Linked DNA regions of Homo sapiens. The protein of the gene in region 3 interacts with the protein of the main gene of each other region in a pairwise test. Each region holds a gene or a part of one and is shown on either strand. Other genes may lie near its edges. The genes, in order: FAAP20, POU6F2, KRTAP8-1 and ZIC1.

Region 1 (7,984 bases), on a different chromosome or scaffold from region 3:
CCAACCCAGGGCCTCGCCACATCAACAGAGACAAAACGCAGCTCTGGCTCTCAACATCCTCACCCCTCACCAGGTGCCCAGCTTCCCATCCACCCACGTGACCCGCAGGTGTCTGAAAATGCACAAAATGTCCAAATAGGACCACAAGAAGATCTTAAAGACACAAAGAACATTCTACATAGTTTGTCAAATCCAGCATTTGACGGTCCTCTGGGTGACCCGGAGAACACCAAGGCTGTGAGAAATGGGAGGCCTCCTGGCAGCTCCACTCCCCAGACCCGCCTCTGCCAGGGCTCCAGGCTCAGCAGGCGCCTGTGCGGGACAGGGCGACGGTTCAAGACCAAGTCCGGCTGTTAGACCAGACCCTCCAATCCAGGCGGCCTCCCTGCTGGGGTCCTGTGCGGTCAGGAGTCCCAGGGCATCCCAGGGTGGCTGTGCAAACCCTTGTTCCCAAAGATATGGGGCTTGTCCCCCAGCTAGCCTGCCCATGCGGTGGCCACAGCCTCGGGTGAGTTCCGGTTCCAAAGTACCGGCTCTCCCTTACGATCAAGTGTTCGAATGTGCTTGAAGCATTCCAGACACACCAAGGCCTGGACCTGACTTCATTGACGCCTACTTAGGAAAAATTGAGGCAGTCTGCCAAGCTTTCAGCAACTGCTTAAAAAGCTCAAAATGGCAAGTTTTTCCTCGTGAACGTCCTTGTCTTCAGAAGTCTTTTTTTAGACTATCTGGAAAAGCAGGCGATGCAAAGACAAAAGCCCCTCCCCGGGGGGCGGGGGGCAGCACCCTGACAGCAACAAGGATCTCAGAGCTTCAGCCAAGAGCATGGATTTCTCCCCAGGGCTCCCAACAGTACCCTCTGTCCGTGATTCAGGGTCTTACTCTGTCACCCAGGCTGGAGTGCAGTGGTGCAATCATACTTCACTACAGCCTCCAATTCCTGGCTCAAGGGAATCCTCCCACTTCAGCCTCCAGAGTAGCTAGGACCACAGGCACGCGCCACCACGCCCAGGCATGTAAAGATGGGATCTTGCCATGTTGCCCAGGCTGGTCTCAAACTCCTGGGCTCCAGCAACCCACCTGCCTCAGCCTCTCAAAGGGCTGGGATTACAGGCGTGAGCCACCGTGCCCGGCCTTTTCTTTTGTTGTTGTTGTTGTTGGCTGCCAACTTTGGACTCCGGTGCCTTCGCATTCCCGAGCTGTTTTTGCTTCTGGAAGACCAGGGGCATCAGGCATGACTGAAGGACCTGGTCTCCATAAGCTCTGAAACCTGCCGCCCATTAACTCAACCAAAAGTTACGAACCAGCATCATTCACACCACCCCAGCCCCAGGACCTGCTCCGGAGGCCAAGGGCCCAGAGGTCGCCAGACACAAGGCCAGGCACTGGGCAGTTTGGGTTATCTTGTTAGCAAAACTGGGTTCCATTCCCCTTTACTTAAAAAATACATAAAAATATACGTTGGGTTTCAAAAATAAGAAAAAGCATCTCCAGACAAAAAAGACGATCTTCATTTTTAAAACCCATGACGCACTCTCGGGAAGGTGTTCCTGTGCTCTGGGCCTGGGGACGCTGGTGCCACCAGATTCCAGGATGGCCAGGTGGACCCGGGGCCAGTGCTCCCAGCCTTCCTTCTGTGCTGTTCTGTGGGCCCCCAGCCTGCCCTGCCCACAGAGCACGGCAAGCAGGTGGACCCCAGACCCGTGACAGAGAGCCACCTGGACATGCCAGGCCACAGCACTGGGCCACCTTTCCAGTGTGAAACAGGGCTTTAAAAGCCAGCGCTGAGCTCGGCCACCTCTTGACCTTCTGAACGGCTGTGGTTTCCAAACACGGATGGATAACCGGGCCGGGCGCAGGGGTGGCCTACTCACCTGGGGGCGAACTCCTTCTGGCACATGGGGCAGCTGCGCAGGGCCGCGGCACCCTCCACAGACGGCTGCTGCTCCACCCTGGGGGCCCTGCAGGGATCAGGTGCCGGGCGCTGGGGCAGGGACCTGGCGGGGGATTCCAGGTGCCCTCCTGCCCCGTGAAGCAGCCGGTAGGAACGGCCCGGGCCCCACAGGTCCGGCGGAAAGGGTGTCCAGGAAAAGGTCTTGGGTCCGACAGTGAAGACTTCAGTGGGCTCCGGGCCGCACCTGGGCTCCTGCAACACAGAGTTGTTGGGCCTTGCCCAGCGATGGCTCCCGCCCTGGAAACCCCTTCATCGCTAAGATGGGCCCAGTGGGCACACCTGTCCTGGGAAGGCGGGCAGTGAAGGCACCTCGTGATCCAGGATCAGCTCCGGGCTCACCGTGCGCAGTAGCTCGGCCCAGAGCCGCTCCCGCTCATCACCCCCCAGGAGAAACCAGGGGCGGCCGCCAGAAGGCCTGGGGCAGACAGAGAGGGCAGACAGGGGGTACTCAGTAGCGGAAACGCTATGGTGGGGAGACCCGGGAGGGCCTGGGGCAGAGAGAGCGGGGAGATGGGGGGTACTAGAGGGAAATTCGATGGTGCGGGAGGTGGCCGGCAGGGTTGGGGGAAGGGCTGCTGGGGCAGACAGTGCGGAGATGAGGGGTACTGGGGGTGGGGGAGCGGGGTGGGTGGGTGGAAATATGGGGTCCTCAGCGGGATGAGGCGATGGTTGGGGAGATTGCGGAGGGCCTGGGGAAGGTAGAGGGTTAGATGGGGGGTGCTCAGGGGAGACGCGATGATGGGAGAGGCGCGGGAGGGCCTGGGGCGGCGCGGGGGAAGCTCGGCGTGGGGTGGGGGCTCAAGGCGGGCGCTGAATGGCGGCGCGGGGTGGGGCGACGGGCGTGGGGGCCGGGCCCGGGGGCAGGGAGCCCTCCCCAGGGGGAGAATAGAGCGGGAGGCCCGCGGGGGCGCCGGGAAGCACGTGGGAGCGGGAAAACCGGCCGCGCCCCCGCCCGGCTCCCGGCCTCACCCGCCCGCCGGGCGCGGCCTCCGGCGGCTCAACCCCAGCCGCGGCCTCCGCGCCGCCTCCATCCAAGCCCGCGCCGGGCGGAAGTGAGCGCAAGCCCCGCCCCCGCCCCTCCAGGCCCCGCCCCCGCCCCGGCCCCGCCTCCAGACCTCTGCAGCGAGGCCGCCCCCCTCCGAGACAGTCGGAACCCCAGGGGCCCTGATCCCAGCCTGTAGGGAAACTGAGGCCAGGGTTCCTTCGTCCTGCACCGCACAGGGGGGCCTGGCGTGAGGGTGGGGGGCCCAGGTGGGGGAGCCCCGCCCGTGTCCCCTTTCCCGTCCGGGCAGCCCCCGGGCCGGAGCCCCCTCCGTTACCCCGATGGCTGCCCGGCCCGCCCCGGCACTGCCTCCTCCCGGCTGCACCCAACAGCTCCCGCCCCCGTTTCCGGCTCTGCGGAGCCGCCTCTCCTCCCAGGACCATTCCAGGAGTAAATAAAGCTTGAAATCCGCCGTCGCCACCACCGTTTCTTTACAAAAGGCGGGGAACTCAAGCTCCTTAACCAAGAAACCAGAGGCGAAGTGACAAAGTCCAGGTGGCTCACTTGGGCCTCAGGGGCCTGGGCCAGGGCCCTGGGGGCAGCTGAGGGGCTTTCCTGCCTGGACCCCGGGCTCTGCGACCTCAAAGTCGGCCACGTGGTGGCAGCAGCCGCCCAGGCACCCTGGTGCCACACTTGGCTGTGCCCAGTGCCCCATGGGCCCAGGCCACTTGCCTCTCCCTTGGCCCTGCTGGGCCCTGGAGTGGCTGCCACCCTCACGGAAGGAGTGGGGTCTACAGAGATCAGGGTCAGGGGCCCTCGCCAGACGCCACTCAGGGCTCTGGGACTCCTTGGCAGTTTCTGCCCTGCCCAGCCCCAGCAGCTTTGGGGCTATGCTGGGCACCCCTCCTGCAGGGCTCCCTGGCTGTTCCTACCCCTCACCTGGCCCCTCCCAGCCCCCAGTCGTCTGTGCCCTCCCTCCAGAACTCAGCTGTGGAGCCCGGCCCTGAACCCAGGCCACCCGAGTGGCCCACCGTCCTTCAAGGGGCCCCAGCCTGGAGGCCATAGGTTGGTGTTCAGGGAAAGGGTCAGCAGCAGGGCCTGGACTGGGAGGTCCCCCTCTCCCTGCATGAGTGGTTTTCTTCCGCACACCTTCCTGCTCTAGATGCTGGAGGCCCCCAGCAGAACAAGATGGAGGCACCAACCCCCAGGCCCTTCGACTTGAGTGAGCAGATGGAGATGCAGCGCTGAGTGCTGCCCGGGCAGGGGGAGGGGGCCTGGGGGAGCTGCTGCAGGCCGTGTGGTCTCAGGGGGCCCTGTGGGAGGTAGCCTGTGGCTGGGCCTGCTCTCAGGCGAGAGAAGCCCAGCCGTGGGGTCTCTGCAGCCCCACGTCCACCACATGGCAGGTGCCAGCTGACCAAGCGCTCTCAGACAGCCAGTGTCCAGGGCTCCCCGACAGTCCTGGCTGCCCTGGCTTCAGCTCCGAGCTTCTGGGTCTTTCCTGGAAATGTCACCATGGTCTGCAGGAGGGCCTTGGGTACTTCCAGGAAGACTGGTCCCAGCCTCCCAAGACAGGAGAAAAGGCCAGGCCCAGCAGCCCATGCCTGCAATTCTAGGACTTGGGGAGGTCCAGGCAGGCAGATTGCTTGAGCCCAGGAGTTTGAGACCAGCCTGGGCAACATGGCAAGACCTTGTCTCTATAAATAAAAAATTAGCTGGGCATGGTGGCATGTGCCTGTGGTCCCACCTACTTGGGTGGCTAAGGTGGGAGGATCACCTGAGCCCAGGTAGGTGGGGGCTGCAGTGAGGCAAGATCGTGCCACTGCACTCCAGACCCCAACTCAAAAAAAAAAAAAAATAGGCCAGGTGTGGTGGCTCAAGCCTGCAATCCCAGCACTTTGGGAGGCCAAGTCGGGAGGATCACTTGAGGCCAGGAGTTTGAGACCAGCCTGGCCAACATGCAGAAACCCCATCTCTACTAAAAATACAAAAATTAGCCGGGCATGGTGGTGCACACCTTTAATCCCAACTACTTGGGTGGCTGAGGCACGAAAACCACCTGAGCCTAGGAGGCATAGGTTGTGGTGAGCCAAGATCGCACCACTGCACAACAGCTTGGGCATCACAGCAAGACTCTGTCTCGAAAAACAAAAAAAGACAGAGGAGAAAAGCCCTTGGTGACAAGTGTTTGCTCAGCTCTCTGTGCCGTGCTGGGGGTGGTGGGGGGTGTTCTTGCTCCTTCCTCTCCCTTCCCCACTCTGGCTCCCAACCCCAGGGTTCTGCTGTTGGACCCGGGGGTGGCTCCTGCCTCCTCCTCCTCTATGGCCCCCACATGGTCCAGTGCCCTCCTGCCATGGGACCGGCCGGCCTCTGGATGGGCTCCGAGCCCCCTGGGACCCATCTCCTTCCCTGCCTGGGTCCCTTGGGCAGAGCCTGGGAAACTCAGGCCCCTGCCCTGTCCTGGAGGACCATGTGAGGGACACCTGTGTGTGGCTGCTGCCCCAGAACAGGGGCCTTTCTGGGCGGGAGGACCCAGCCCCCACCCCTGGAAAGCCAAACACTAGAGCTTTGCTGGGGTCTTCAGCATCCTTCCAGCCCCTCCCGGCTCCCCCATGCAGGTGCCCTGGCCACTGGGCCCAAGAGGGGCAGAGCCGAGCAGAAGCAGGGCGGGGTCTCAAGTGACCCAGACCCGGGACACCTGCGCTGCCCGGCTGGCGCAGGCTGCTTGGGAAGCTCTCGCTGCGGGTGCCCCAAGGGTAGGAGGCACGGGCCTGCAGGGGACCTCAGGGCTGGCTGAGCCTGGCTCCAGCCCGCATCACTGAAGCTGGGGGGCCCCCATCCCCTTGAGTCTTAGCCACCCCAGTGGGCCTCATTTACCCTTGGCCACCAGGGAAGAGGAGCCAGGGCCCCAGGCCAGTGCCATGGGGCAGAAGGCAGGGCCTCTGGGCCTGGTGCTTTGGGGACGCAGAGGCAGCACAACGTGTCACAGTTGTCCTCCTGGGGGCTCTTCCCCTCCAGTTTATCTGCTGCTCTGGATTAATCTCCCCTCCTCCCATGTCACCACTGGGGAGGGGGCAGTGGGGCAGGCCCCTGTGACCTACAGCCAGAGATAAGTCCACAGAGAAAGGCACTGGGGTGACCTCTGCTCTGGGCACGTGGCGGGTGCCTCCACTTGTCAGGAAGCCTGACCCCCAATCCCCTCCCGCCTGACAGCTTCCCGACAGCTGCCTGCCAGCCGAGGGCCTGGAAGGGGACCGGCCACTCAAGACTCTCAAGACAAGGAAGCATGTTCACCTCCAACAAACATACCTTGTCCTGCCTGTCCTCAAGTTATCAGCATGACACAGCGGTGCTGGTGATGGTGATGGTGGAGGTTTCAAAGTTGAACCTGATGAAAACGCTCCACTTCTTCGGAGCCATCTGCTGCTGTGGTGACGGAGTTTTGCTTTATTGGAAAATAATTTCTGGTTGGGACTGACACGTGCACAGTGGAAATGAGTTTTTTCTAAGCCAAAATTCATGTTTACAAAAGAACGTTTCAGCTGTGGGAGTTTGCATCCCAGGCAGAGCAGAAGGTGATCGAGTGGGTGGGGGCATCAGAGCCACCCATCTCCTACTCCCGCACCTGCAGACCGGTGGGCTAGGAGGCCCCTTACCCTCTGTGGCAAAAAAGGACACATTTATGGATGATGAATCAGGCCCCAGCCCACTGAGCTGGTTTCAGAAGCCAGGCTGGCCGTAGGTCAGGGAGCCAGGCCTCTCCAACTCCTTCCACCGCGGAAGAACAAGTGTCCCAGCCACTGGCATCCTCAGAGTCACCCAAATGTTCATCTCTGCCCAGCGCTGACACCCTGCAAATCAGGCTAAGACAGCGGTGACGGGCCCTGAGGCTGGCAGGCCTAAGCAGCCCGGTGGCCGTGCACCCTCCCAATTTCCAAATGAGACCTGTGGCCGACAGGCACCCTGGGCACATGCTGAAGGCACTGGGCTGCCTCCACCCCTTCCCATGTGGCTAAATGGCCCAGCACCCACACACGGTGCCCTGGCAGTGCTCACCTGCTGGCAAGGACAGCCAAAAGGCCCGGGCAGCCTTCTGACGCAGCCAGGAACTGGGCTGTGCTCCACCACACCTGCTGGCCCGTGGATGCCAGGCAGGCACGCCCACCCATAGCCAGATGTGGTGGCATTTATGGGATACGGGAGTGCCAGGCAGACAGGCTGTGAGAGACAGTTGCCTGGGAAACATCGCCAGATCTTTGGGGCAGCAGAGCAGGTGCTCGGGCCCACACATGGGGTGCAAGAGTAGGGGTGTGCCTTGGTGCCCTTGGGCACCGACAGCCTCCTCACAGCCTCAGTGGCGGGGTCATGGCACAGGCCTGCCCCTGACCCCAAGAACCAGAAAGCCAGGAGCAGCTGGGGAGGGCCCTGGCCCGGGAGAGACAGCGGTCCTGTTTCTGAACCCCATCCCAGCCATGGCCTGTGTCTGGGCCAGCATCCCCGACCAGACAGGGCCAGCCGCCCTCTCTCAAAGTCCCCAGCACCCCTTCAAGCAGTATCCGGTTCACACCCTCCCACAGCCTGTCCTCCATCCCCACGTGTCGGGCTCAGCTTCCGCACCACTCAGCCCCCACCCAGGGGCGGGCTTTTATCAGCCCCAGATCCTGCTCTGACGTCCCCCCGCCCGGAGAAGCTTCCCCAGCCCAGCCCAGCCCAGCCCAGCCCAGGCTTCTCTCTCCACCCCACTGCCCTGCTGGGAAATTGTGAGCTCAGATGCTGATTGGTCTACCCAGGAGGGCGGTCCTGTGTGCTCTGTTCCCTGGGAAGCCTCTCAGAGTGCGCGGCACCAAGGAGCCGGTCAGGGAGTGGAGACCTCTCAGGGCACCCCTCCTCTGGGGAAGGCAAGTCACAGAAACCAAGCTGGAGGAGCACTGTGGGTTGAGCAGCGTCTCCGAAGACTCATGTCCACCAGTACCTGAGAAAGTGGCCTCGCTCGGAAGCAAGGTCTGTGCCGATATAATCAAACCAGGATGAGGCGATACTGGGTTAGGGTT
Region 2 (7,025 bases), on a different chromosome or scaffold from region 3:
CCTACCCAATGGACAGTTCCATAGGCTCAATTCTGGAAGTCTGTGTAGGGAAAGATGGCATGGTCAGCTCACACTCCCATCTTTTATTCAAATATAAGATTTCATTACCACCTACGTTACTGTCTTCTTAGTATATGTGAGGTGACGTAATTAAAGAGAACGAGCAGAGACATATCCTAAAAGAAACGTAAAACATAACTTTTTACATTCTCTGGAATATTTCAATAATGTACACTTTGTCTACCTTCTCAGAACCCTAAATTAGTAGAATTCAAGAGCTAAGTCTCATTACATGTTTTTATTTAGCCCTGCTTGTGACTGCATTATTTAACTTATGAATCAGGGTTGAAGGATTGGTCTGACAATATGAAATACAGAAAACAGAAATTTAACTGACATTAATTACCATGAATTTCTTCTGGTCTCTTTTTCACTAATCTAGATACACTAACTGAATCATGCATTGGAAACATACATCTATGTCAATTATCTTAATAAACAGCATTGAGGCTCATGAAAGAAAATAACAAGCATTTTGTTCAGTTGAGTTTGGTGGCTTGGAGCAAACATAAAGGTTTTCAAGTCACAGTGTGTCTGACTGAGAACCAGCTCTTTACGCCATTCTCTGTCATTCTTACCTCTTTGTTACTAAATAAAATATTGTGATCTTTATTGCTATTTTAATTGGTTTGAGTATTCAATATATAGATGATAAGTATCTTTTCTTGTGGCATAAAGCTACTCTTCACTTTTAACATTACACTTAACCTTCTCTCAGGAGACACTATTTATGAGTTCTTCTGCTCAAACAAATCCTATTTGGAAAATTCTGAAATCTTTTATGTTAAGAGAAATGAAACTTCTCTACTTGTTAGACTGATTGCAGAGACTAACTTATTTTTAAAAGCTAGATCAAGAGAGAACTGGTTAAATAAATCACTGTATATCCATAAAAGGGAGTACTACAGAGAAGGATGCAGATCTATTCATAGTCACATGAGAAGAGGTTCAAAATATTTTTTATATGTAAAAGTAAGTTGCAGAACTCTATGTATAGTATAGTTCTACTTGGGTTGTGTAAGGATTGCATATACATGCACAGAAAATCTCTGGAAGGATATATAAGAAATAGTTAACAGTGGTTATTTGTGGCGAGTGGAATCAGGATACTTTACTTTCCACTTTATATTATTCTGTGCTATTGCAATGGTTTGCCATATGCAGAAATTACTGTTATAATTTTTTAGTAAAAAATTCAAAAATACTCATAGGAGTCTACCATGTAATTAACTCACTTCAATCACGTGCATATAAGAATTGCGTTCATGTACTGTCACTTTTACTCAGATGTTCCACTCTCTGCCTGAACTAGCTGTTTAAATTCTATTTGATAAATAAAGGTAGAAAGGGAGAAAGCAATTGCAGTTGATAGGTTTCAGCACTAGTACAAATGGCAGTACATTGCAAACCAAAGAGCCCCCCTGTTTTTGGAAGGAAATAACCACAATATTCATACGTTTGCAGTTTTCCAATCGACTATGTACTCGAATTCTTACCACAAACTTGATGTTTAACAGCTGCAAAGTACTACTCAGGAGGCTGAGGTGGGAGCGTCTCTTGAGCCCAGGAGTTCACAGCCAGCCTCAGCAACATGGCAAGACCTCATCTCAAAACAAAAACAAAAAAGTTGCAAAGTATTTTTCCATTCTCAACCAAGTTGAGAGGAGTATTTTAAGTAAACATCTGTCATAATTTTTTCAGGTACTAAGATTGAAAACAGAGACAAAATATTTTTAGATTATTAGAGGTTAAATAGTCAAGTATTCCCAAAATGTTTAAAGTATGTCTGTGAGTGTGCGTGTGTGTTAATGAATTAGATTGCTAGACTGCCTCATTTTCATTTTTACTCTAAATTCTTTCGTCACTAGGAATCTAGATATAGGTTTGTTTACAAATGAAAAAAGTTTTCAGAAAAGAAATCACAACTTTAGTTCTTGAATTGAGGATTAATATATTACCTAGGAACAATGTAGGACTGTTTGGGATTTGAGCCATATTAGCCTTCGTTCCCAGAAACCTTCTGAATATTACTACAAACACCTCTTGTATTAGCAGTTCTAGAAATACACCAAGAAATGCACCTAAGAATGTGTAAAGACTCACTTTGTTCAAGAAATATTGAAACAGAGAAAATGAATACAGCAGAGATTTACTTTTAAGACCCTGGAACACCATCTGCTGATATGAACAGAGAGAAATTTTCAAACTTGGCATTCTTATATCACAGCCAAACTTTCACAAAATCTCTTATTTTTCTCAAATTCTGACCTAGGGCATTTCATCCCACAATCATCACTTCTGCCCACCATTCAACCAGCATCTTGTCAAATCTGGCTGCAAGATTAAGTTTCCCGATTCGGAATTCAATATTGTAACCCTAAGGATATAAGATTCAAGCTGGAACATTCTGGATTTTTTTTTAATGGATAAAATTGTTTCGGCCCAAAGACCAGAGTTCGCCCTGACCATAATGATGAATCATCAGGACTGACACTAAGTGAAATGAGTTTGATGTTCTTGTTTTATTTGTGCCCATTAAGCAGCATTTTACATTTGTCCTAACTCTCAACCTTTTGGAGAAAAGGTTGAAAGAGGCTTGTTTTCTAGTATTATTTAAGACTTACAAAATTAACTAGCTGTGTCTGAAGCAAGTTTGGCGTGCCATAGTCCCTACTATTGTGTGTCCAGCTCCATTCTTGCCCATTCTGCCCTTCCAATTTGGAGGAAAAGAACTGAAGAATTAAGAAATATCTACTTTTCTCATATTTCCTCAGTATCAATTACGGCTTCTGGTATCCTTGCTTCTGTCTTGGTACAATATTTACCTTTTACTCTCAACAAAAACCTACTTCCTTTAAAAAAATCTGTATATGAATTCTGCACTGAAAACTAAGCTCCCTATAAATGTTGTGCTTTGTTCTTTTGAACAGGAATTTGCCTGAGTTCTGATCAATGCTAAAAACACCATTTAACAGGTATGTATTCTTTTAAAAATATACCTGTTTCTCTAAGTTTTTAGATGTTAGAGATAAATATTTTCTTCTAAAAATAGTTTTAAATTATTCATCAAAAATCAAAGTCATAAAATATGCAGGGTCAACATCATATTAAACTCCAGAAATAATAAGTACTATTTCACAGCATCGGAGCACTGGCTAACCTCTTGTAAAAACTCTAAAGATTTAAAGAAAAGTTTTCCTTAATATTGAAATTTGTGTACAGCACAAGCACTGTGAGGCCTTTTCTTAGACTTTGTTTTTTAATTCTAGTTTTCCTGTGCTAACGTATTATTTCACTGTATTTTTTGTGTGTGATTTGAATTGCTAGGTGAGATGAGGTAAGCTTACAAAATAACTTAGAAATATAAACTAAAGAAGCAAGTATATTGGTGAGTTTTCTGCTGCCTTTTTGCTTTGTTTTGCTCGAGGTCTTGTCTCTCTTTCCAGTGCCCTTTCCTGCCTGGGAAGCCCACAAAGATTTCGCTTTTCACTTATTACTCATCAAACTGACTCTGGTTCACAGTGGAAAAGAGAAGAAAAGCTGATGGAGAAATGGCAGTGAAGAAGGAGAACAAAATGTCAGAGCAATACTTTTGAGCGACTATATCCTTTTCATTAAAGGTGTCAACACGTTTATTTGCATCTTTGACCCTAGGACTAGGGAAGTGCTGGAAATTATGTGGGTACTTTTTCCCATGGGAAAAATGTACCTCCTGGGTCGGGGGAAGGCTGAAAATAGGTGAAAGTGAGAATACTCAGTTGATCTTCAATTTTTTTTGTCTTATAATTAAAAAAGTGCTGTTGAAAGGAATAGGGTTGCATTTCACCTAGAATCAGTGCCAAGTATCAACAGCTAATGTCTGTCTTTTGAAGAAAGAATCTTTCATACCATGGGGGTTTTAAAGCTACTGATAAAACAAAAAGCTATTTTCTGAAGACCAGCCAACCTGAAAAACAAGTGTTTTAAAACCTAGAGAATTTCCTTTAATGTAAATAATCAAAGATGTTTTCAATTATTTTGCTATTACTTACATACAATGGTTTTACGTTTATGAGAAGTGCTATCCCTGAAATAACAATAATATGATCATTTATAAGTGGGGTGTGGAAAAATAACACAAGCATACAGAAAACCAGGAAGGAATTTTTCCAGTAAAAATTAAGCAATATTCACCACAATTGGCTCACATTGTGGAACTGGGAAGAACAAGAAAATAATAAAAAGAAAAATAAATCTTTACTGAAATGTAGTGATAGTGTTTCACTCGCAACCGCTTCTTCAAATTGAGATGCAGAAGAAATGTGTAAAAAGCAAAACTGGTACAAATCTTGATTACAATTTTGGATCAGTTTAAGACAATATGGCTCAACAGAGCAATTTACATAGGCTAACAGAGCAAACTTGAGTTGGTAATTTACTTTATTGGATACACATTTCACCTACAAAAAAAAAAAAAGAAAGGAGGGAGGCAGGAACAAAAGCAGAAAGGAAGAAAGGGATGTAGGGAGGGAGGGAAGGGAAAAAGAACATAAATCCAGGTTTGAGATTATATATAGAGCAGCTATTATCTCCCAAGTAAAGATTTGGCCATAAATTACAAATTAATTTAGAAGTTGTGTAATTTGGATTTTCTTTTAGCGTTCAAATTAAAGTCAATATTTATCTTTTTGCACATTGTTTCTTCAAGTCTGATCCTTTCATGTTTGCACTTTATGTCCCAACTTTATTTTCTACTCAATCAAGCATTAGAAAAGAGTAACAGCTTGTACAATATCACAATGCAATTGAAAAGTGAAGTTTTTCAGTATTTGCAGACATGTTAATTATATTCCAATTTTTGTAAGCAATAAAGAGAAAAATACTTGAAACTGGTAATATGCAGTTTACATAGCAAAGAAAAGGTCAGTGAAGAAACATCCTTCACTGACCTCTGAAACAAATATTATAGATTTTACACGCAGGAAACTTATTACATGCAAACTTTCTTTTGTAAGCATTTGTATTCTAAAAGTTGCAGCCACCTCTCTGCATATGTTAGAGGTAAGAATAAAAAAGTTTTAAGTTCTTAAGCATTGAAAATGATAATTGAATGGTACAGAGAGTTTCATTAATTGACCTTAGAGATAGAAAAGAAAATTTAGTTTCAAGACCCAAGTTCATCTAATTGTTGTTTAGTATTAACATTATTGGATAGTAGTATTACTATATTGTTAAATTTTACTTAAATGGACAAAATTGACTTTACCATTTAAATGTCTGCTTTAATTTTTAAAAATTCTAAACATAATAAAAATTAAGTCCATCTGGTGAAATGTAAAATGTTAACATAAGACTTTCCTATAAGTATGAATGAAATATTAAGTGAAGTTTTTTAGGTCAATAAACAATACATAGTACAAATTCAATTTTGGTCAGTCTGGAACTTACCAAAAGAATACTAGCACCAGTATGTATAAGAAAGAATAATCCTTAATTAATCTGTATTTTTTCTAGTATACCATCCATCCATAATACCTTGGGGAAAAAGTATTCTCAATAAAATTAAAGCAGTAATAATTTCACACTCCCAAAATACATAAATTTGTTGAAGCAATCTGTCAGTTTCAAAAATACAGGCATTCACACCCACAAAAATGACTTTTTTTAAGAGTATATGGGAATTATGCTTCACATGAGTAAAACAGGGTTAGGTTAGCCCCAGTGTTTCATTTTTATATGTAAGGCACGAATATCAGTCTAAATTGACAGAGGGCAATCTTCAAATGTGTTATGAGAGCCAGTGTCCCCTCTCCCTAGACCACTTGCATCACACATCAATTTGAGCATATTTTAGGTAAGCAAATTATTATTAAATCTACATTAAATACTTTTTGGAACAAGGGATGGTATAAACAAACCTCTATGTAAAATTAATTGTTTTGATGCTATAACGGTGAAATATTTGTGTGTTTTAAAATCTCCATATAAGAAAACATACATGGAGATACTGTTAAGCCAAATGCATGCACACATACTGAGCACTGTCTGAGACATTTGCATTAGTTTTCTGATGTACAACTTTACAACACTTCACATGGTCGAAATGTACTTTGAAAAATAAAAGACCCATTGTACCAGTAAGGGAAATTGTAAACAGCTTTTTACTGCACTTCTAATGCTATTAAAATATAGAATGTGTGGTCTCTTCTCTCTTCTACTAGTACTTTAGCAATGTCAACTGGAAGTGCATCCATGATCACTTTATCCAGCTGTCTCTCTCTCACTCCCAGCAAACTCTTAGATATACTTGATAAATATTTTCATCTAATTTGGTTCATCTGTTGTTTTTATTAACAACTAATTTAATATCCTCTGTTCTGCAATATTTGCAAAAGTCAGTCTATAGACGTGAAGCCAACAGGGACCCTCAGGCCTGTGCATCAGGATGGTGGGCTGCCTAAGTCCTCTGGGGACAGCAGTGCCAGAAGGAGTATTGGACACAGTGACCCGACTGTATGAGATGAGAAAAAACAAAAACAGGAGGTCCGCAGTACTGATGAACTAATCTGTCACTCACAAGCTCAGGTCTGCAAAAAAAAGAAACGAAGCACTAAACATGGCCATAAGAGATGGAAATGCAAGTCTTCATTTCTAAATGATAATCAAACCAACGATCAGAAACTGATTAACTGTGTAATTGAATTGAATTGAAAATCATCCCATGAATAACAATCCATCCTACCTTCAAGGGGTTAGGAAGCTAACTACAGGTAATTGCTATCAGAAATCTGATTTGATTTCCAAAAATTGTGTGAATGAACCAAGTTTCTTCATCTTGATATACTAGGCAGGGAGTTTGTTCTTCCAAGTACTAGACTGCTTAATTGCTTGCTTGGGGGAGGAGAAATCCTAGGGGAAAGGCATATATGAGCAATTTCTACTCTGTGAAGCCAGCGCTGTGTCCTGAGCTGGATCATGGCCAGAAA
Region 3 (5,629 bases):
AGGCTGATTAAAAATACTATCTTGCTCTCCTGGAAATAAGCATGTTAATGAGGCAGACAGATACCCATCACACAAGTGAAGGTTATATAGGAACTACGATTAAGTCCTACAGATACGAGGAAGAGGTTGGCCTACTGTTATGCTACAGATGGGCTCCAGCTAATCAGGAATGGCAGAAAGGCCTCCCAAAGGAAGTGATTGAGCTGGCATGTGAAGGTTGCATGGGAGTTGATCAGAAGGAGAGGAAGGAAGAGAATTCCTCACAGAACAAACGGCATGTGTCAAAGCTTAAGAGTGAGAGGAGCATGCGAAGTTTGAAGAACTAAAAGACAGCAAAACTTAACGAAGAGAGAGTTGAGAACTTTTAGGTCAGTTTAAAGATTAAAAAATATTATCCTAAAAACAATAGGAGCAATTGAAACACTTTTTTTTCTTGTTTTATTTCTAAGACTGTTACTGATTTATTCATTTGTTATGTTGAGGTACATGCCTTCTATACCTAATTTGTTGAGAATTTTTATCATGAAGGATTGTTGAATTTTGTCAAATTCTTTCTCTGCATCGATTGAGATGAACAAATAATTTTTATCCTTCATCCTATTCATGTGTAAAGTATATTACACTGATTAATTTTTGTATGCTGAACCACTCTTGCTTATCAGAGGTAAATCTACTTGATCATGTGTATGATCTTTTTAATGTGCTTTTAAATTTGGTTTGCTAGTATTTTTGCATCTATGGTCATTAGGGATATTGTCCTATCATTTTATTTTCTCATAGTGTCCTTGTCTGACTGGTATTAGAGTAATGCTGGCCTCATAAAATGAGTTTGAAAGTGTTTCTTCCTCTTTAATTGCTTGAAGGACTTTGAGAAAGATTAGTATTAGCTCTTCTTAAATGTTTTATAGAATTCAATGGTGAAGCAATCTGGCTCTGGATTTTTCTTTGTTGGAAGATATTTTATTACTGATTCAATCTCATTATTTGTTATTGGTCTGTTAAGATTTCCTATTCATGATGTATTCTTGGTAGGTGGCACGTTTCTAGGAATTTGTCCATTTATTGGAGGTTATTGAATTATTTTGGCATATAATTGTTCACAGTAGTCTCTTATGATCTTTTATATTTTTGGAGTATGTTATAATATCTCTTCTTTTATTTCTGATTTTATTTGTCTTTTCCCTTGTTTTATTAGTCTAGCTAAAGGTTTGTCAATTTTGTTTATCTTTTAAAAAACCAACTCTTAGTTTTGTTGCTCTTTTCTGTTTTTCAGATTATATTTCAGTTATTTCTGCTTTGATCTTTATTCCTTTTTTCTTGGTAACTTTGGACTTAGTTTGTTCTTTTTCTTCTAGTTCCTTCAAATATAAAATTATGTTGTTTAGTTGAAATTCTAATTTTTCTTAATGTAGAGTTTATTGCTATAAACTTCTGTCTTAGAATTTTTGCTGCATTCCAAAATTTTGGTTTTTTTTTTCTGTTTTGTGTGTGTGTGTGTGTGTGTGTGTGTGTGTGTGTGTGTGTGTGTGTGGAGATATTTTTCATTCCTCATTTGACCCACTGGCTGTTCAGGAAATGTTTAAGTTCCTCATATTTGTGAATTTTCCAGTTTTCCTCCTGTTATTGATTTCTAGTTTCATACAATTATAGTTGAAAAAGATGCTTGATATGATTTCATTCTTCTTACATTTGTTAAGACTTATTTTGTGGCCTAACGTGTGATATACACTGGAGAATGTTCTGTGTGTGCTTGAGAAGAATGTGTATTCTGTTGCTGTTGGATGGACTATCTGTACACGTCTGTTAGGTCCATTTGGTCTAAGTTCAAGTACAATGTGTCATTATTGGTTTTCTTTTTGGATTACCCATTCATTGTTGAAAATGGGGTATTGAAGCTCTGTACTATAATTATATTTCTATCTATTTCTTTTTTCAGGTCTATTAATATTTGCTTTATATATTTAGGAGTTTAATTTTTTTGTGATTTTTTGAGCATCTCAACAAATACTTTTGTACTTAATTTTATATTTATTACATTGTATACTTTTTAAGAAAAAGGGCTTTCAGCATTGTATACTTTCAGGCTTTATGAAAACCTTGCTCTTTCTTTGATAAGCCTATTATCAGAATAAAGCTTTCATAGGCTCAATATAGGATTAACTTCGCTATTAATTTTTAAATGACTTGTTGATAAATGATATGTTTCCCTAAAATTTTCTTCTGTTAGAATTTTCTGTAGACTTTCTAGAGAAAATCCAAGCCATTCTCTGTAAATAGGGCTTAAGTTTTAAAAAAGACAACATATTTTAATTACTATTCATGTTCAGAGCTAGGTTTTGTGCTGCAGAAGGCAAAGCTAGCATCTTGTCAGATTGGGTAGGCGAATGGGAGAATTCTTTTAAATAGAGCAACATAATTGACCTTTGGCAATATTAATTCAAAAATTTTAAATTATCCATTATACAATGCTATTTTTTGTCTAATTTTTCTTTTTTCCCTAACATTACCAGCTTTTCTATCATGAAACACAGCAATGTGATGCCAGTAGAAATAGTATGTAAATCATTCTATGATTTTTAGGGAATGATCTGTGGTTGAATACCTTTATGTTTTGGGAATAAATCTAATTTCAATTCCCTGAACTTGTTTAGCTATAAGCCACATATCGTGTTTGAATTTTAATTACTGAATCCCCATAGGCAGCCATCCAGGTTTGCTCACGAAGCAGGGTACTGTAGGTGTTTTCATTCTCCAGAATGTGATTATTACGCATTGCATATCTGTATCAAAACATCTTATGTACTCTATAAATATATAAACCTACCATGCACTCACAAAAACTAAAAATAAAAAAATTTAGGCCAGGCGCGGTGGCCCACGCCTGTAATCCCAGCTCTTTGGGAGGCCGAGATGTGCAGATCACTTGAGGTCAGGAGTTCGAGACCAGCCTGGCCAACATGCTGAAACCCTGTCTCTACTAAAAATACAAAAATTAGCCTGGCGCAGTGGCATGCACCTGTAATCCCAGCTACTCGGGAGGCTGAGGCAGGAGACTCGCTTGAACCAAGGAGGTGGAGGTTGCAGTGAGTCCAGATTGCACCACTGCACTCCAGCCTGGGCAATAAAGCAAGACTCTGCCTCAAAAAAAAATTATATATATATCTATATTTAAAAAAAATGCCTCTGCTGTAATTAGTCTACTGCTGGCTAGAACACTGGCATGGTTTTGAATTTTCCAAGTGTCTCATCTTGTTCTTGGATTCAGCCTTTGATTCCTAGCTGCTGATAGCAGGGAGCAAAGTTACCTCTGGGTTATGAAGTAAAATCTGGGAGAGCTCATGTGTAATACATATCTGTTTTGTGGCCTTCTAGAATGATTCCTATTATCTCTGTGCCTATTTCTGTTCCATATGCCCTCTTTGGTATTTGTTCTGTAAGTTCTCTACTAAGTGCCACTGTAAGAAATCTTAATGCAGGTGTCTGAGAATAATATATCAGGTCTTACATGATCCAAGATAGTTTTGATCAGCCTTATCCCTCCTTTAACTCATGCTTGAGAACTGACTCTCTGTTTAGAAAGGAATAACATTCCTTCTTTATCCTGGGGTGCATGATCATTGTAAAAGTGAAATAACTGATTTCATGTTGTCATCTGGCCCTTTATAATATCATCACATTTGTCAGACAATCTAGTTTCATTAGATCTAAGAGAAAAAAAATTTTAAATCTTACAATAAATTTTTTAATTCATTTTTCTGTGTTTACCTTATTAGTTTCAATGTTTAGTTTGAAATATGTTTCAGGCCAAAAAATTAAATTTGTTTGACAATTCAGTACAAGGATTAATCCAAATACTCCGTTTTAAAATCTCAATACTATTAATTCAAGTAGTCTTCTAGAAATGTGATGTTAGGTATAGTTTAGGAGGGGACTATGATTAAGATTACACTTTTAACCAGTTTCCCAAACACGGTAGCTGTAGTAGAGGAAAAAAAAAAGACTCTTTCTCATGAGTTCCATTGCACTTGTCTTTCATATTCCAAAAAAGAGAATCCTTGAAGCAGGTGAATACTAAGACATACTTTAATTTTGAGAATTTTGAGATAGACTCACTATCCATTTGTTATTTTATATATTAATGTATTTAACACATATTTATTGAATTTCAACTGTGTGTTGTGGAAATTCAGAGAGCAAGAGGACTGCATAACAGCTAACAACCTCAGAATATTTCTTGATATTATATACCTGCTTACAGAGTTATATGGGGTCTATAAGACAGAGTGCTTTGAAGTCCTGGCAATAATTTTTTTTTTTTTAGGAAGGGAAATAATTTGTTTAAAGGCATCTTCTCCCTGTATTGCATCACACGAGAGCTTTCTTAAGCCACTGTAAAGACATCATAAGCAAGAGCAAAACAAGTTAATGAGCTTTTTAGAATGTAAATTGGTGTCAAGAATGAAAATGAGGGCTTTGTGTTTTTCACCACCCACCAGAGCTGGGATATATAAAGAAGGTTCTGAGACTAGGAATCCATCCCACTGAGGAAACGCACTCTGTTGCTACCTAAGCCCTCCACTCCCGACACCATGCTCTGCGACAACTTCCCCGGGGCTGTCTTCCCAGGATGCTACTGGGGCAGCTATGGCTACCCGCTGGGATATAGCGTTGGCTGTGGCTATGGCAGCACCTACTCTCCAGTGGGCTATGGCTTCGGCTATGGCTACAACGGCTGTGGGGCTTTCGGCTACAGGAGATACTCGCCATTTGCTCTCTACTGATTGGCTGAAATCCCCGAGGTGTAGCATCTTCTCTCCCTTGAAGGCTGAGCCCCACATCTCCAGGTTCCCCCCGTATCCACTCCTTCAGTCCTCATTTGCTCATCAACCTCAGAGACACTGCTTTCCAACTTACCTCGAGTCCCAGGGGAGGAAAATGAAAAAGCAGACGCTTCCTCAAGCTGCCTCCCCTGGCTGATGTTCTCTGGGACATTTTCGGAAATTTGACCTCCCACTTGTCATGAGCTACTTTTGAATTTTCCATGACACTCATGACTTGTGATGAAGTCATGGATATGTCTATCAAAATCTCAATAAATTTGTCTCAGCTGGTATAATATTCTCATGCTAGAGCGAAGTTTCCTTTCTTGGTGTGTGCATATTTTCTGTTACATGGGTGGTGGGGGGGAAGTGAATTTATTTTTCTCATGTGGGCATTAGGAACAGCCAGAAAGCAAAGAATTACTGATCCTGTGTGATAAGCAGGTAAGAGGGTGGGTTGCAGGTAATGACTTAAAAGGTTGCCTGTTTGAACCTTCTTTAAATTTTATGATGCCCACCTCCAACCCAATGGAGCACCATTTATTGCTCGGGGTCCCCTTCTCATCTCACTACTTCTGCTCCTCCGCAAGAAAACCCAACACAGGAGGAACTTTTTCAGTCACTTCCATGTTAGTCCAAATGAAATCCACTGTGTTCCCTTTCCCAGGGACTAAGGATTATAGACTAAAGTGCCATGCCCCCTAATGAAGGATGCTGGAGCATTGAGTAATAGAGAAGCCACAGACATCCTTTGGAAATCTGAGAGTTTTTAAGGTGAAGGGATAAATCCCCTATATCAAACCATCTAA
Region 4 (7,248 bases), on a different chromosome or scaffold from region 3:
TTCTCCTGTTCTCTAGAGGGAGAAGCTTGGGTTTCCCAGCTCGGGGCTGAAGTAAGTGTGGGCAGCATCCGGGTGCCCAGAATAGAGTTTGTATCAGTAGATCAGGCTGGGCATTTAGCCCTCCCTTTGAATCACCCCTCCCCCAACCTGCAGGCGGCTGAGACAGGAGAAAAAAGAGCAGCATGCAGTGGTGTGGGTCGCTGCGAGGACAATACTGTCGGAAAGCGGGGAAAACATGACCTTGGAATCCAAAGGGAGTTTCCTGAAGACGGTGACGGCCGAAGTGCAACCCTCCAAAAGCCCCTCCGCTTTCCTAAGACTTTGACATGGGCCATTCATCAACCCCAACTTTCAGATCCAACCTTTGAGCCAGTCCTAGCTTTCTTTCACAGCTCAGCTCTATTCCCTCCTCATTGGCCCCTAATTTCCAATGCCCCTGGGTCTAGGCTAGGGGCCAGAATCCTAGGAGCTGCGGCCTGCTCCCCAGAGAGCTAGTTGCTGCTCTTGTTCGCATTGGAGATAAAGAAAGCCAAGTCCCGAACCCACTGCTGGCCGCGCGCAGAGAGCAGATCCCAGCAGTCAGCTTCCTGAGGCAGGACCAGGGTGAGGGAGGGCAAGGAGCCGCCCTGAGGTGGACTCAGGCGGCATCTGCCGTCAGGTTGGGGCGGAGAAGTTCCATCGTCTTGCTGCCATCTGGGCTAACTTGGCGCTTTGACCCTGGAGAGGGGAAGCAGAGACTCTCCTAGCCACCCCCTTGGGGGCAGAGCAGAGATACCTCCTGTAAAGGCCCCCTCCCGGCACCCGCCTTGCTCATTTTTCGCGAGGGAAGCTCTGGGCCACGACTTCCATTCTTGTGCCCACGGTGGGGCACCCAGGCAATTCACAAGGAGAGAAGGGAAGGCAGGCAGGCAACAAACTGCTCCTGGTTCCTGTGCCAGTGGGAGCCCCATTTGTACCCCTTTTCCCTCCTCCTGGGAAGAAGGGATGGACTCATCCTCTGCGTTGCCCCTTTGCGGAAGGGCCCCCTCCTCCCCTTAGTGTCAGTGGGGTGGGGCCTTTATCCACGGTTGGGGGAGGGGGGTAGGATGAAGGAGGAGATGGGGCAGAAAGACTGGCTGGGCCTCTTCCCCCACTGGGGTTTGGGTGCCAGTGGTCCCCTTGAGGGTACTTGCTACCCGGTCGCTGGAGGTACAGTTCTCATCTGTCTGCCCCCTGGACTCACGCACTTACCCCACTCCACCTGTTGCCAGGATCGCCTCATTTCTGCACATCATTTCGGGGTGGCTGAGAGGGGACCACAAACCCCTCCAAGCCTCTCTTTTGTGGTTCCAGCGAGGCGGTCATCCTTCACTTCTCCTTTTCCAGCTTTCAGGAAGCAGTTAGGGAATGTATGATGAAGCAGAAATGAGCCGTCAGGATGATATTTTAATGGCTTATATGTCACGTTGGTGCATGTGGCTTTGAACTGGAGCCGTTCGCGTTTCCTGCAGAGAGCGCCGCAAATCCCACTTGATAACTTCTACAACCCACAACTTTTTTTTTTCTCACATTCACTCTTACCCTGTATATTTGGATGTGTTTCCTAAAAATACCCTCTTGTCAACGTCCCCGTTGGATTTTCCACGGACTGGAGAGGAGAAGACTGACTTTTCTTTTTTGAAGAATTATTTTCCCTCTCCCCCTCCCAACAGCTACCCTTCCCCCCTTAGGTCCCCTCCCTTGTTGTGTGTGTGTGTGTGCGCCCGCGTGTGTTTCCTGAAAGGCGGGCGAGGTGGGTTCAATATCTGTTCTCCCTAGTGAGAGGAATACAGCCTCTAGAGAAAACTTCTCCATACAGATGAGGTTTTCTAAACTCCAGGGGAAGCAGGATCCAACTTCCCCTTGTAGGTAAAAAGACTTAGTGCCTCCGATATATCTTTTTTTTTTCCAACCAAGTGTACAATAATTTTTAAAGATACCTCGGCCCTTTCTTTACCTCCACTCCTCATTCCATTCCACTCAAAGTTGGTGGGAAATGCTGGGCTGCTAGACTCAGACTTGTTGATGGGAACAGAACAATTAATTTTTTTTCCGAATTTATATTTCCCGGCACAAGCACAAATGCTCAGCCAGGTCCCTTCAGGCACCGGGAAATCATCCCGGATACCCAAGCCGACTTTTGAGCAAGCACAGCCCATGGAAAGGGCAGTCCCGCCGGCCAGCCCCAAGCGAGAATCTAGTTGGTGAGAAGACCAGAAAACCAGAAAGGCGAGGAGCGGCGGACGCTGACCCTGCCTTCCTCCAGCCCGTGCAGTCAGCGCTGGCGTCAGGGCAAAAAATATATTCATTTTCATTTTCCTCTCGCTGGGGCACGGTGAGTTTCCTAACCGGGCCGCCTATGAAAGGATGAGTTGAGGTTTCTTTGTTTGGAAAAAGAGTTTAGGGCTTTGATTCAGCTGCAAAGAAGCCAAATGAAGTTAGAAACAAAGGGTAAATTGAAGGATTCCGACTCTTGGCTTTTTGTGTTTTCCTTACTAGAAAATAATTAGACCTAATGAATATGCAGACGCTTCAGCTAAAGCCTCGGCCAGGACTGCTGGGTTTTAAACAGAGCTGCGGAGAAATGCAACCTTCGTCCCCACAACCCCCCGCATCCGCGTGCATTTTTTGAAATGCATAAATGTTGCTCGGCTTAATTGATTGAGTCACAGGGATTTTTTTTTCCTGCTTTTAAGTACCATACTCCCCTACCTTTCAACAATCATTTTAATATATAGTCAATGGCTCTTTGTGGAAGGGACAAAAAGAAACTACGCGCAGTTGTTGAATAGACTTTGCGCTAGGCAAAGACAGGTTAATCGAGGGCCGCATCGCGAAAACAAGCGAGTGTTGTATGTTTGCACTGAATCCAAATGTCTGCATTTTCCTAACTAAATCAAAGGGAGTGTTATTTCTTTTTCTGCTCACTCATCTGAAGGTAAGTAAATTTTCTCTGGCGATCAAAAGCCTGGTCGGCAACAAAGACCGCGCCCGCTTTTTCCACCGTCCTGGTGTGGCGAGTTGCGGAATTTCAATAACTGTGACAAGGGTGACTGATTTGTGAACTAGAAAAGGTTTGAATGTCACAAAATTTACATTGGTCCTATCTATTGGGGATTTAAATACCGAAAAAGTATTCGGGGATCTCTAGGGAGCTTTGGGCAGCCCAAGGGAACAATAGCGCGTTGGGAAATTTACAGTTTTACCTGAATGAAAGGGGCCCAAGTAGGGAACAGGAGTGAGGAGAGACAGGGTTAGCGGGGGCAGTCGAAGGAGACAACGGAAAGGCAGAAAACAGAAAAATAACGCAAGAGAGAGAAAAAGTAAAGGAAACTGGCAACAACGTTTCAAATTTGCCATTAAAAAATTCAAACCTCAATAACCTGGGAACTTAAGCGCTTTCATCCACCTGTGTGTGTGAGTGTGTGTGTGTGTGTGTTTTCGGGGAGGGGGGTGCGGTGGTGCCGGAAGTCTGATTAGATAAAAGCGAGAAATACAGAGGCTGCCGGTTACACTGAGAAATTACATTTTTTTGTAAAGAGAGCATAGTGCCCGTGTGCTCCCAAGATCTTAAATTATAAACAGGAGGGGGACAAAGCAAGAGGGAAACAAACTTCAAAAGGAGCAAATAACAAAAGCCTCTTTTGCTGCTCTTGAAGGGAGGGGGGAAGGGGGAAGAAAGAAAAGAAAGTTGCTGAATCGGGACATTCTGGAAGTGCCTTTGCTGTGTTTACTAGCCCCATCCCCGCCTGCTGCACCCGGAGACGTCTGAAGTCTCTAATCGCTCAGCGAAAAGTTGGTTTCGGGAAGGGCAGCGCCGGGGTGCGGGAGGGCAAAGGAGGAAGAGGAATGCATATGACTGTGAGAAGGAAAAGTAATCGTGGCAAAAAAAAAAAAAAAAAAAAAAAAAGAAAGAAAGAAAAGAAAAAAGAAAAAAAATTTCCGTGAGAAGAGGGAAAAAATTTGGCTAAAAAAAAAGTTGCTACTCCTGGCAGCCCTGGTTTGTCAAAAGGGGATGTCAAGCGCTTTACAATACCTGGGATTGATGAGGCGGGCGGGCCAATGAGCTGCGCGCGGCGCCTCGGCGCGCCCTCCGTTGGCGCGGCGGCTGAGGGCGGGGGGAATGCGGGCGCACCAATGGGCGCCAGCGTCGGCAGCACGTGACACCTCCCCCCTGCTCCCATTCATCAAGGGGGGGACGGTGTCGTCCTTTCAATTCATTTATCTGCAGGAATGATTGCTGCTATCAGTCTCGCGCTCACCGCCCGGCTGAGGAGGTGAAAGTTTCTCCCCAGGAAGATAAACCGCAAAAGACAATATTGTGCATGATTTGCGCCTTTTCTTTGGCTTTTTCTTTCTTTCTTCACCCCCCCACCCACTTTTTTTTTTTTTTTTTTCAAAAAGCAGAGAGGGAAAAACGGAGAGTGAAGGAGCGAGGAGGCGAGCGTGAGAGAAAGGAGAGAGAGAGAAAAGAAAGGGCGAGGGGCTAGTGGAGAAGTAAGGAGGGGCGCGCTGCGCGAGGCGGAGAGAGGGCGAAGCAGTCGCGGCACTGGCGCTCACATTCCTCTATGCTACAAATCCAGGAGGAAGTTTTTTTTTAGGGGGCTGAGATGCTCCATGCCTTTCCCCGGGCAGCCTTGACGCGCGGCCCTCTCGGCAGAGACTGAGCGGCGAGAAAGTGCGAGCCGGGCCGGCAGAATCTGCCTGGCGGGCGCTGGAGCCTGCGTTACTCGCGGCCCGCAGCCGTCCGGCTACTTTGCGTTTGGCCCGGCCAGCGCCCGGGCGCGCCGCGCCATTGCCTGCAGGCTAGGACTTCGCGAGGTGGGTCGACTCCCCCTCCCTCCTCCTCTTCTTCCTCCTCTTCCTCCTCCTCTTGTTCCTCCTCCTCCTCCCGATTTTCCCTCCTCGGCTGGCGAGGGTGGGGGGGGCGGGGGAGGCCGGGGCTCGCCCCGAGCAGCCACGATGCTCCTGGACGCCGGCCCCCAGTACCCAGCGATCGGCGTGACCACCTTTGGCGCGTCCCGCCACCACTCCGCGGGCGACGTGGCCGAACGAGACGTGGGCCTGGGCATCAACCCGTTCGCCGACGGCATGGGCGCCTTCAAGCTCAACCCCAGTTCGCACGAGCTGGCTTCGGCCGGCCAGACGGCCTTCACGTCGCAGGCGCCAGGCTACGCGGCTGCTGCGGCCCTGGGCCATCACCATCACCCGGGCCACGTCGGCTCCTATTCCAGCGCAGCCTTCAACTCCACGCGGGACTTTCTGTTCCGCAACCGGGGTTTTGGCGACGCGGCGGCGGCAGCCAGCGCACAGCACAGCCTCTTTGCTGCATCGGCCGGGGGCTTCGGGGGCCCACACGGCCACACGGACGCCGCGGGCCACCTCCTCTTCCCCGGGCTTCACGAGCAGGCTGCCGGCCACGCGTCGCCTAACGTGGTCAACGGGCAGATGAGGCTCGGCTTCTCGGGGGACATGTACCCGCGACCGGAGCAGTACGGCCAGGTGACCAGCCCGCGTTCGGAGCACTATGCTGCGCCGCAGCTGCACGGCTACGGGCCCATGAACGTGAACATGGCCGCGCATCACGGCGCCGGCGCCTTCTTCCGCTACATGCGCCAACCCATCAAGCAAGAGCTCATCTGCAAGTGGATCGAGCCCGAGCAGCTGGCCAACCCCAAAAAGTCGTGCAACAAAACTTTCAGCACCATGCACGAGCTAGTTACGCACGTCACCGTGGAGCACGTAGGTGGCCCGGAGCAGAGTAATCACATCTGCTTCTGGGAGGAGTGTCCGCGCGAGGGCAAGCCCTTCAAAGCCAAATACAAACTGGTTAACCACATCCGCGTGCACACGGGCGAGAAGCCCTTTCCCTGCCCCTTCCCTGGCTGTGGCAAGGTCTTCGCGCGCTCCGAGAATTTAAAGATCCACAAAAGGACGCACACAGGTACGGAAACAGCTGTAGGACCCCTACCCATTCCCACTTGGGCCTGGGACCCAAACCGAAAGTCAGCGGCCAGGTCGCACAAACGCAGCCTCGGTGGGATCCCGGGCGTCAGGTTCCGGCAGGCAGGCAGGGAAAGTGTGCGCTGATTTTTAGTTTCTGGCTTGAAATTATGGAAAACACACACACACACACAGGGCGGACGAGGAGGAGCTGGGTATATAGATTTTTTAAATGAGAAACAAAAAAGGTCGGAGAACAGGAAGCCAAACCTGGTTTGGCGGAGACCTTGGTGCTTTCGAAGCCGGAGAAAGTGGCTGGCTCCCGGCAGCCGCGGAGGCGCCAGCTGCTCAGGCTGCAGACAAATCTAAACCCTTGCTTGCTGCCAACATCTCTCTCCGTGCACTTCACTGAGGACTTTGCCAAAGGAAAGAGCTGAGGAAATTGAGGAGGCCGGGTTAAGGGCGTAGAAAGAAACAAAACAGAGACAGAAAGAATTGAGACAGAGTGGGGAAAGGAAATAATTTGGGATTGAGGAGGCTTTTGGAGCTTTATGCATATTTGAAGAGTTCAGTTTTAGTAGTGACTGGTTTTAAGAGTGGGTTTGAGGGGTGGAGAAAGTCCGAGGAAGGCAAGGAAGAACTTGTTGTCTATTAGACTCCATGAGGGTGTTTTCAAAACACCAGATTCCCCTCTTTGGCCTTTAAAAATAATCAAGACACAGGTCCGGAACAGTTAAAAAAAAAAAAAGTTCCCACGAGCTCAGGGTTGTAGCCTGGCATCAGACAAAACATTCTGGGCCCCCTGCCCCCAAGAGGCCGGGAACTGGGTCTCCTTTCCTATTCTGATTTTCCCGGGTGAGATCTGAGAACCATGCTTGAGACTTCGGGTTTAACGCCCGAGTCAGGGAAGAATTTGCGGCGTTGAGTTCTCTCCGGCCCAGATTACGCTATAAAATGTGAGTGTATGTAGGGAGTGGGGTGGGTTGGAGGAGGCGACCAGGGGATGCGGAGCGTCGGGGAGGGGGCAGGGGGAGGAGAGAAAAGCAATAGGGCAGGAGAATAAGCCGCAAACGTGAAAACTAGAAACCAGGAGCCAGGTGGAAGCAATCCGAAATCGTGTGTAGCTCTGGGTAATACGAGTTTCCAGATCTGATGCTAAAAACCGACTCCTCCTACTATTAATTTTTTTAAACATAAAAATAAAATGTAGATCCAATTGTATTAGGGATTACAATAGAGTTAAGATATTTATAATTCCACTGCAGATGTAAGAATTTATTGACGTTC

The links.
Region 1: the proteins of KRTAP8-1 (region 3) and FAAP20 interact in binary tests that used the Homo sapiens proteins (3 or more experiments, as listed by UniProt).
Region 2: the proteins of KRTAP8-1 (region 3) and POU6F2 interact in binary tests that used the Homo sapiens proteins (3 or more experiments, as listed by UniProt).
Region 4: the proteins of KRTAP8-1 (region 3) and ZIC1 interact in binary tests that used the Homo sapiens proteins (3 or more experiments, as listed by UniProt).

What each region holds. Positions count from the first base shown.
Region 1 is NC_000001.11:2,191,765-2,199,748, forward strand, and holds the start of FAAP20 (Fanconi anemia core complex-associated protein 20), read right to left. Parts: upstream 3,009-7,984; 5' UTR 2,986-3,008; coding exon 2,924-2,985; intron 2,370-2,923; coding exon 2,234-2,369; intron 2,147-2,233; coding exon 1,875-2,146; intron 1,212-1,874; coding exon of another isoform or gene 1,094-1,211; exon of another isoform or gene 1-1,093. UniProt on the Homo sapiens protein: Component of the Fanconi anemia (FA) complex required to recruit the FA complex to DNA interstrand cross-links (ICLs) and promote ICLs repair.
Region 2 is NC_000007.14:38,980,887-38,987,911, reverse strand, and holds part of POU6F2 (POU domain, class 6, transcription factor 2), read right to left. Parts: exon of another isoform or gene 6,406-7,025; intron 3,663-6,405; exon of another isoform or gene 3,507-3,662; intron 3,036-3,506; exon of another isoform or gene 2,991-3,035; intron 1-2,990. UniProt on the Homo sapiens protein: Probable transcription factor likely to be involved in early steps in the differentiation of amacrine and ganglion cells. Recognizes and binds to the DNA sequence 5'-ATGCAAAT-3'. Isoform 1 does not bind DNA.
Region 3 is NC_000021.9:30,812,181-30,817,809, reverse strand, and holds KRTAP8-1 (keratin-associated protein 8-1), read left to right. Parts: upstream 1-4,535; 5' UTR 4,536-4,589; coding exon 4,590-4,781; 3' UTR 4,782-5,113; downstream 5,114-5,629. UniProt on the Homo sapiens protein: In the hair cortex, hair keratin intermediate filaments are embedded in an interfilamentous matrix, consisting of hair keratin-associated proteins (KRTAP), which are essential for the formation of a rigid and resistant hair shaft through their extensive disulfide bond cross-linking with abundant cysteine residues of hair keratins.
Region 4 is NC_000003.12:147,405,133-147,412,380, forward strand, and holds the start of ZIC1 (zinc finger protein ZIC 1), read left to right. Parts: upstream 1-4,232; 5' UTR 4,233-4,980; coding exon 4,981-5,962; intron 5,963-7,248. UniProt on the Homo sapiens protein: Acts as a transcriptional activator. Involved in neurogenesis. Plays important roles in the early stage of organogenesis of the CNS, as well as during dorsal spinal cord development and maturation of the cerebellum.